3 separate regions of the Homo sapiens genome follow, and regions 1 and 2 are each linked to region 3. Evidence: fine-mapped expression QTL. A gene starts in region 3. Each other region holds a variant in brackets. All regions are shown on one strand. Distances are between the middles of the regions.

Region 1 (2,754 bases), 35 kb before region 3:
AGTGCTATGCTGGGCACAGTGGCTCATTCCTGTAATCCCAGCACTTTGGGAGGCTGAGGCAGGTGGATCGCCTGAGCTCAGGAGTTTAACACCAGCCTGGACAACATGGCAAAACCCCATCTCTACCAAAAATACAAAAAAGTAGCTGGATGTAGTGGTGTGGGCCTGTGATCCCAGCTACTTGGGAGGCTGAGCTGGGAAGATCACTTGAGCCTGGGAGGCGGAGGTTGCAGTGAGCTGAGATCTTGCCACTGCACTCCAGCCTGGGTGACAGAGCAAGACCCTGTCTCAAAGTGGCTATGTTTTGACTCCTTCGCTCACAGGACTGGTGGCTATGTCCTGTTCACATCAAAATGTTATCTTTAAAATTAATGAAAAGCTGCCATTTTTGGAGAGGGTGCCCCCCCTGCCCGCCGGAAAGCAACTTCTTCTCACTACACTTCTGCCTAAACAACCGCTTAGCCAGGTGCCTGCATGCAGAAAGTACTGGATAACGCTGGCCACCGTTACTGTGGTTCAGCACCAGCTCTGGGGCACTGTCCTGTGTTCTGCCTGGAGAGCTGTCCCACCACCCTCCTGCCTGCAGGGCCTCACCCGCTGCAGCTCCTGCTGTTGGTGCATGCTCGCGTCCAGCTCCGCCTGGAAATTCTGCTGCTTCTGTAACTGTGCTGGCAGCATGGCTGTGTCCAGCAAACCCTCCTCCAAGGCCACCAGGTTCTTCTCCCTCAGCCACGCAGCCACCTGGGCACATGGGGAGGACAGGCCTGCTGTCCAGGGCTTTCCCCTTCCCCTGACCTCTGGGATACCCCAGAGGAAGGGTGGCCTTTCCCTGGGTCGACTCCTTCCCCACCATGACCGCCTCCCTCTCCAAGCGAGGCGAACCTCCTGGGAGTCCTGCAGGAAGGCCTGCAGCTGCCGGAGCTCCTCCAGGCGATGGCGGCGGGTCCCGGCTTGCCTGAAGAGCGCCTCCTTCCTGCCAGGAGGAGAGGCTCATGGGCCTGGAGCCACCCCCGGGGCCAGGTGGGGTGCCCGTCCAGCCTAGGCTTTCTCGGGTATGAATATACTCTGAGTCTGGAGTTTCCTTTGGAATAAAGGTACATTGCACTCCCCCTCTGTATTTGTGTCTGTTATGCGCCGGATTTTGTACCCCCAAGTTTGTTTTTGTTTTTGAGACAGAGTCTCACTCTGTCACCCAGGCTGGAGTGCAGTGGCACAATCTCGGCTCACTGCAACCTCCACCTCCCGGGTTCAAGCAATTCTTCTGCCTCAGCCTCCCGAGTAGCTAGGACTATAGGCTCACACCTCCAGGCCCAGCTAAATTTTGTATTTTTAGTAGAGGCAGGGTTTCCCCATGTTGGCCAGACTGGTCTTGAACTCCTGACCTCAAATGATCCACCTACCTCGGCCTCCCAAAGTGCTGGGTTTACAGGCGTGAACTACTGCACCCAGCCTGTACCACTGAGTTCTTATGTTGAAGGCCTAACTCCAGAAGTGTTTTTGGAGACAGCGTCTTTAAAAGAGGTAATTAAGTGAAAATGAGGTCATATGGGTGGGTCCTAATCCAGTGTGACCTTATGAGAGGAGGCAACTGGGGCAGACACAAGCACAGGGGGACGATCTGCCTCCTGCAGGAGGGCAGAAGCCAGGGGCTAGAAGTCAGGGTGGCACTGTGCTGGGGGAAGCTGAGCCTGCCAGGAACCACCTAAGGTGACTGGGGTAGGGGGTGGTGACA[A/G]AGACCAGCAAAGCAAAGTTTGCATTCTGTTAATTCAAAGACCTCCACAGGTACCCAGGTGTGGTCCACCTGCAAGAATGGAGAGGGGGTGGCCGCGACCACTGCCAGGACACCAGCACAAGGAGCCATGGCATTTGTGGGTGCTGGTTGGCTCTCTGATCGGCTCTCTGAGAAGGACAAAAGCCCCCACCAGTCTGGGATCTGGCTTTTGACCGTATCTGCCTTGATCTAAAAGTCTGAGGAGCTGCATGAAGCAGCCAAACCTGATGAGCTTTTACAGGGAAAAAGAACTGCAGAGCTGGGGTCTCATGGGCCATGCAGGTCACATGCATCTGTGTCTGAACTTCAGTTAGATGAACTAAGACTTCTGCTAGCCTGCCTGTGGGGCCAGCACAGTGCTTTCGTCCTCATCACAGCCGTTAAAGCCCAGGATGTGAGGCTCAGCTGCCGAGAGGAGGAACTTGTCTGAGTCCTGCCATTAGTGGGCAGCACAGGGACTCAGGACTGTGACCCTGGAAGGCCGATGCTTGACCTCTGTGCCCTGCGACCTTCCGTTTCGTGAGATGATTTCCTCTTGGTCTCCTAGCATAAGCCTCTCTTTAAACTCCCTTTGATCTCAACTGAATGAAGAAGGAAGTGGGATTTTCCACGTGGTGTTTGATGTCCATAACAGGCAGACACATTGCAGGGCCAGGGGTGGTGGGGACCCCCGGCATCTGACCTCAGTCCTTGGACAAGGCTGGTGAGCCTGGGCCAAGTAGTGGAAGGGTGGGAAGGGAAGAACCGGGATGCCAGATGCCTGTGCCAGCCTGCCCACAGCACCCCTCACCCCAGAGCCACCACTACCTCAGAAGCATGGCCTGGCACCTGCCCAGGGCACTCTGGGCCTCGGGGTGCCCACCCTGGTGCAGGCCGCGGGCCGTGGCCTCCAGAGCACTGATCTTTCCCGCCTGCACCTCCAGGTCCCACTCCAGCATCTTGTGCTTCCACAGAAGGGGCTCCATGGGGGCCAAGGGGTCCTG
Region 2 (2,754 bases), 80 kb after region 3:
CGAGGTCGCGCCGGCCGGGAGGGGCAGCGGCGGGAGGCGGCCGACTGCGGCGCACACGTGGGGAGGGCGGAGCGGGGCGGGAGCCGGGCGAGGGGCGGTGACGGTACCTGATGAAGGTGGTCTTGCCGGTGCTGTACTGGCCCACCAGCAGGATCATGGGCTTGTTCTCGAAGTCGGCGTCCTCCAGCGCAGGCGAGTGGAACTCGTGGAAGCGGTACGCCTCCTCCAGCGGCAGCACCTTGCGCAGGTAGAGCGAGCGCAGCCCGCCCGTCACCGTCTGCACCGCGTCCGCGCCGCCAGCGCGTTCGCGCCCGCCCGCCTGCCGCCCCATCCAGCTGAACATCCTGCCGCCAGTCCACGCTCGGATGGGACCCTGCTCCGGGTTCGACTCTCCCCGGCTCGCACTGAGCCGCCCCGGCCGCGCTGGCCGCCGCCCGAGGAGGGCCCCGCCTTGTGCTGCCACAGCCAGTCTTCGGCCGCTACGTCACGCGCGCTCGCCCACTATTCAGACGAGCTCTCTCAGGTCCTTCCTGATTGGATCTCTGCCAGAGAGGGCTGAAGGCGTCAGCCAATTGAGAGGAGGTTCTTAATGAATTATTGATGACGGAGTCATTCTAGAGGACTGGGCGGGGAGATGGTGTCTTCCCGGCCGGGTGGCACTGACCGGTCATGCTCAGGGCCCCCTTCTGGTTGCCGGTGCCTCACCTCTGGCCAGGTGGCATCGGCTTCCGGGTAAATCTGAGCTGCCCAAAGCGAGCCTCCGGAGGCTGCTCCATCTCCTGGAACGTTTACTCATTCAGGCCTCTGGACGTCGATACTGGGGATGAAAAGTTCAGAAAGTGGACAGGCAGGTTCTGTCTTCCCGGGGGCGGGTGGTTATGACTCCGTTTTACAGGCCAAGAGACCCAGGCTCACGGGCATAATTGACACAATCTTGAGGGGAAGTGGACTGGAATCTATTTGAGTAGCCGTTTCTCCTACTTCTCCACATTGCCCTCACTAAATTCTGGATCAGCTAAAGGCTTTTTCCCCTTAGTTTTCTTTATGTGTTTTTCTGTAAAGCCGAAAATTTAGTCATTACTCTCATTATTACATTATCCTCATTATTACAACTTTATTTCCACATATTGACATGTGAGTCATTGTCACCTCCTAGCTGTTTTTTGTTGTTGTTGTTGTTTTCTGAGACGGAGTCTCGCTCTGTCGCCCAGGCTGGAGTGCAGTGGCACGATCTCG[G/A]CTCACTGCAACCTCCGCTTCCCGGGTTCAAGCAATTTTCCTGTCTCAGCCTCCTGAGTAGCTGGGACTACAGGCGCTCACCACCATGCCCAGCTAATTTTTGTATTTTTAGTAGAGATGGGGTTTCACCATATTGGTAAGGCTGGTCTTGAACTCCTGACCTCAGATGATCCGCCTGCCTTGGCCTCCCAAAGTATTGGGATTATAGGCGTGAGCCACCGCCCCTGGCCTGTTTCTTTTCTAGGTTAAAAGGATACTCACTTATCTAAGTTGAGATTGGGGGAAATAATCACCTTTTGTGTCCTTGATTGTAGCTTAGGAATATTTCTTAGTTGTTTTAGAGCATTTCTCAAGTGTGATCCATGGGGCCACCTGCATATATGCATTTATGAGCTGGGATGCTTGTTAAAATGCAGATTCCTGGTCTTCAGTCCAGACCTACTGAGTTAAAATATTGAGGAGAGATGGAGCTCAACAGATGCCCTAGGTGACTCTGATGTGGCCTAAGTCTGGGGAAACAGTACACCCTGCAGTACTTCTCCAACCTAACAGAAATGCGGATTCTGATTCGGTAGGTATGGGATGGGGCCCATGACTCTACATTTCTAACAGGCTCTCGGGTATTGCCAATGCTACCCATCCCTGGACCATACTTGGAGTATGAGAGAACAGGACTTTGCATCAAAAGATCTGGGTTTGAACCTTGACTATGTAAATTAATGGCTGTGTGATTTTAAATGTGATGAGTTACCTCTCTGCCCTAGTTTCCTTAAGAGCAAAATGGAAACTCCTTTGGAGTTGTTGTGTGGGTCACATAGTTGGAGGGAATTGTATGTAACTAGGGAAGTGAAAAGAAAGCCAAGGGAAAATAAAGTTAGACATCTGCCTTGTGTCAAAATAAAACAAAGATTGAAATGTAAAAAGAAAATGAAACCACTGCACTACTAGAAGAAGGTACAAGAGATTTATACAATTTGGCGGTGGAAAAGCCTTTCTAACCAACATTAAGGACAGAAATTATGAAAGCAAAGGCTGACATATTTGACAACAAAAGTAAAAGCTTCGATGTATTTTTTTAGAATACATAAAAACAAACGGATATAAATACAATCTTACCATATGATGCAGAAATCAGCTCCTTAGTATTTACCCAAATGAATTGAAAACTTATATCCACAGAAAAGCCTGTACATGGATGTTCATAGTGGCTTTATTCATAAGTGCCAAAAATTGGAAGCAACTAACATGTCCTTCAGTAAGTGAAAGGATAATCTGTGGTACATCCAGACAATGGAATCTTATTCAGCACTAAAAAGAAATGAGCTATCAAGCCATAAAAAGACACAGAGGAAACTTAAATGCCTATTACTAAGTGAAAGAAGCCAATCCGAAAATGCTATGTACTGTACGATTTCATCTTTATGACATTCTGGAGAAGGCAAAATTATGGAGGAAGTAAAAAGGTCAGTAGTTTCTAGGTGTTAGGGAGAAGGAAGGAATGAACAGGCAGAGAACAGA
Region 3 (2,754 bases):
ATTCAGGGCCTCTGTTTCCTCATCTGTGAAATGAAAAGCCTAAGAGAACGCTAAGATTCTTTTGGCCTAGAATCCTGTGAGTCTCTCTTATGACAGACAGTGACATTTTCCACCCCAGTAGGGACCTGGATTGCTACTGCCATGGCCAGCTGGGTGCTCTCCAAGTCAGGGGTGCTGTGCGAGGAGGGCGTGGCTTCTGCTCCTCTGTGTCCCAGCCACTCCTCCTGTACTCAGGCCCCAGCTCCTCTGTTCTGCCCAGTGGCCTGGCGCAGGAAAGGTGACCCAGTAGTTCAGCCTGTCCCAGCTGCCTGCCCCAGCACCATCCCAGACCCCTTTCCCTGGGGCCCACCTTGGCCCTGAGGAAGGCCAGAGCTCGGCTGCTGTTCTCCAGGAAGTGCACACGCAGGCGGCCCCGGCTCGGGGGTGGCAGGGCCTCCCCTGAGATGAGCTCCAGCAGCCGCAGGAGGTGGATGCCGTCAGCCAGCTCTGTGTACAGGTTCCGGATCTTGATGCCCGCCTGGGGAGGGGACAGGGGTAAGTATGGGGTCAGCCCAGCCTCACCTGTCCTCCCATCCTGGGACCTGAGAGGTACGACCCAGAGCAGCTGCTTTGGAAGAAGGAGCTCTGGCCTCAGCTTGGCCTCAGGCAGATGACCCCACAGCTCACCCCGGAGGCCCACTGGCCAGAGCTGGGGGCCTGGTATGGGTGGGCTGTGGGTCACAGCTGGCTATACTCACCTGGCCGCACTGGAAGACGTTATTGATCCACTTGGTGAAAGTCTTCTCCTGCATCTGCATGTGCCGGGCCTGTAGCTTGCGAATGTGGCCCGTCTCGTACTGAGAGTCCATGGTGAGACTTGGACTGGGCGGGACCCGGAGTTCTGTGCTGGGCCTCCTGCTGCGGTGCCCTGCAGCCCCGAGGAGCTCCCGGGGACTGTGGGGCTGACCAGCCATCAGCCCTGCAGACTTTGGGGATGAGGAGCTGCTGGATGGCTCCCTAAACCTGGAGGGCATGCAGATTAGGGGATGATGTGAATGGAGATGGCCCCTCTACCAGGGGCCTGGGGTCCCGCCTTGCCAGACTGTCCTCACATTTCATGGGGGTTGCAGCTTGGAGCCCAGCCAGGTAAGGGCCAGTGCTTCTGGTCCCCTGTGCTTGAATGGCCCAGGGCCCCCTTTGCCCCACCCCACCTTCCAGATTCTTCTTCTCAGAGCCCCTGCTGCCAGGTCCCTCCACCACAGTGACTGGGACAGGTGGAAGGAAGACAGGAAACTGCTTACCTTGGTGATGCCTGGGTCCCACAGAGACGGCTCTGCTGGACGGATGGAGATGGTAGATAGCAGGGGCTGCTTACCTTGGTGATGCCTGGGTTCCACAGAGGCGGCCCAGCTGGACGGATGGAGATGGCAGATAGCAGGGGCTGTGGAGGGAGGGAGAGGGACATCAGGAGAGGCCAAGGCTGGAGCAGGGCTGCACCACAGCCCTCCCCTTGAGCCAGCGTGCTGGGGTGACGGCACACAGGCGGCATTGTCCTCCCACCTGCCACAGGGCGTGGCCCAGACAGGGAGGGGGTGGTTCAGGAATGCTCCAGGGCCATTGCCAGATGATGTCCTCCTTCATCATCCTCCCTTCCCCGCCAGCAACTTCTCCAACTCCAGGTGGGGGTCCTGGCTCCCAGGACGCAGAGGCCCATGGAGCGGCCCTGCCACCGCATGGGGTGCTGCAGTCTGCGTAGGAGGTACCAAAGGGCAGAGCCTCTGTGGGAAGCCTGTGGACGCACTTCCCAATCTGAGACTGCCCTCTGTACCCTCTTGGGGCCTCTCTGTGAGCACCCAGGGCGAGGGGATGAGGGAGCGTCCTGGGCCGTGGTCTTCTCATTCACCCCCAGGGAACAGCCCATAGACTGAGGGCCTCACAGACCCTGGGCTTGGCTTTCCAGGCCCTGCCAGAGTGCAGCCTGCCTAGCCCGGGGCTGAAGGGTAGGCTCCCTGGAGGAAGGGGTGACCTGGAACTGCGAGGGCTGTGGAGTCTCCTCCAAAATTAGAGACACGGTGTTAACTCTGGGCTCCACAGAGCTGGCCGTGGCCCGGGGCTCGGAGGCAGGGGTGCAGAGGGAGCTGGTGGGCGCCCATCCCTTCCTCCCCGAGCAGCCGTGGACTACATGCCAGAGTGAAGGCGAGTTCTAATTCTGGGGGTCTCACCCGCCTCTGGCTAAACTCAGGGTAGCAGTGTGGGCTGGGGTGTGTGTGTGTGGGTGTCTTCCAGCGGCCCTGGAGCCTCTGAAGCGACAGCCCGCTCCTCAGGGAGGCGCTCCTGGCAGCCACAGCCCACAGCAGGACAGCCGCTCAGCGCGCCCTTGAGAGCTGGGCTAGGGATGAGTCACACTTGAACCGCCTGGGCCCACTGCAGGCAGTCAGGGGTGACGCTGAGAGGTGCCGTGGTCTCGGGTGGGGTGCGGCTTCCTGCGTCTGAGAGACGCTTCCTCTCCTGCTGTCCTCTCCCTGCCAGGCCCCTTCTGCAGCGGCTGGCTTCCAGACACCCTGCGTCCCTCCCTTGCTCGCAGCAGTTGCTGTGGCGGTCCTCCCGTGCACCCCCCCTTCTGCCCTCACTGCCCCTGGGGGTCCTCATCACGGACCCCCTAACTCGGCATCCTGGACACCACCACCCCGCACCTTTCCACAGTGCAGCTCTGCTCGTGCCTGTGAAGCCTCCCACAGCCTGGGAAGGAAAATCCAGACTTGCCAGACCTTGCCT

The links.
Region 1: its variant is fine-mapped to the expression of SPTBN5 in cerebellar hemisphere (GTEx, PIP 0.98).
Region 2: its variant is fine-mapped to the expression of SPTBN5 in whole blood (TOPMed, PIP 0.98).

The regions. Positions count from the first base shown.
Region 1 is chr15:41,858,008-41,860,761 of GRCh38, forward strand. SPTBN5 (spectrin beta, non-erythrocytic 5) reads right to left here. Exons shown (of 68, transcript NM_016642.4): 47 at 2,579-2,751; 48 at 883-973; 49 at 595-741. Among named protein-coding and RNA genes, the nearest start is that of MIR4310, 7.2 kb to the right of the region's middle. The variant A/G (reference allele first, on the strand shown) is at 1,733.
Region 2 is chr15:41,972,152-41,974,905 of GRCh38, forward strand. It overlaps EHD4 (EH domain containing 4), which reads right to left and starts at 406. Exons shown (of 6, transcript NM_139265.4): 1 at 108-406. The coding sequence starts at 343. PLA2G4E-AS1 (PLA2G4E antisense RNA 1) reads left to right here and starts at 612. Exons shown (of 4, transcript NR_120334.1): 1 at 612-847; 2 at 1,653-1,807. RefSeq lists silencers at 1-117, 218-287, 328-457. The variant G/A (reference allele first, on the strand shown) is at 1,237.
Region 3 is chr15:41,892,545-41,895,298 of GRCh38, forward strand. SPTBN5 (spectrin beta, non-erythrocytic 5) reads right to left here and starts at 1,509. Exons shown (of 68, transcript NM_016642.4): 1 at 1,355-1,509; 2 at 738-1,002; 3 at 350-517. The coding sequence starts at 953. It overlaps LOC105370792 (a long non-coding RNA gene), which reads left to right and starts at 233. Exons shown (of 4, transcript NR_135681.1): 1 at 233-534; 2 at 2,683-2,754. RefSeq lists an enhancer at 294-353.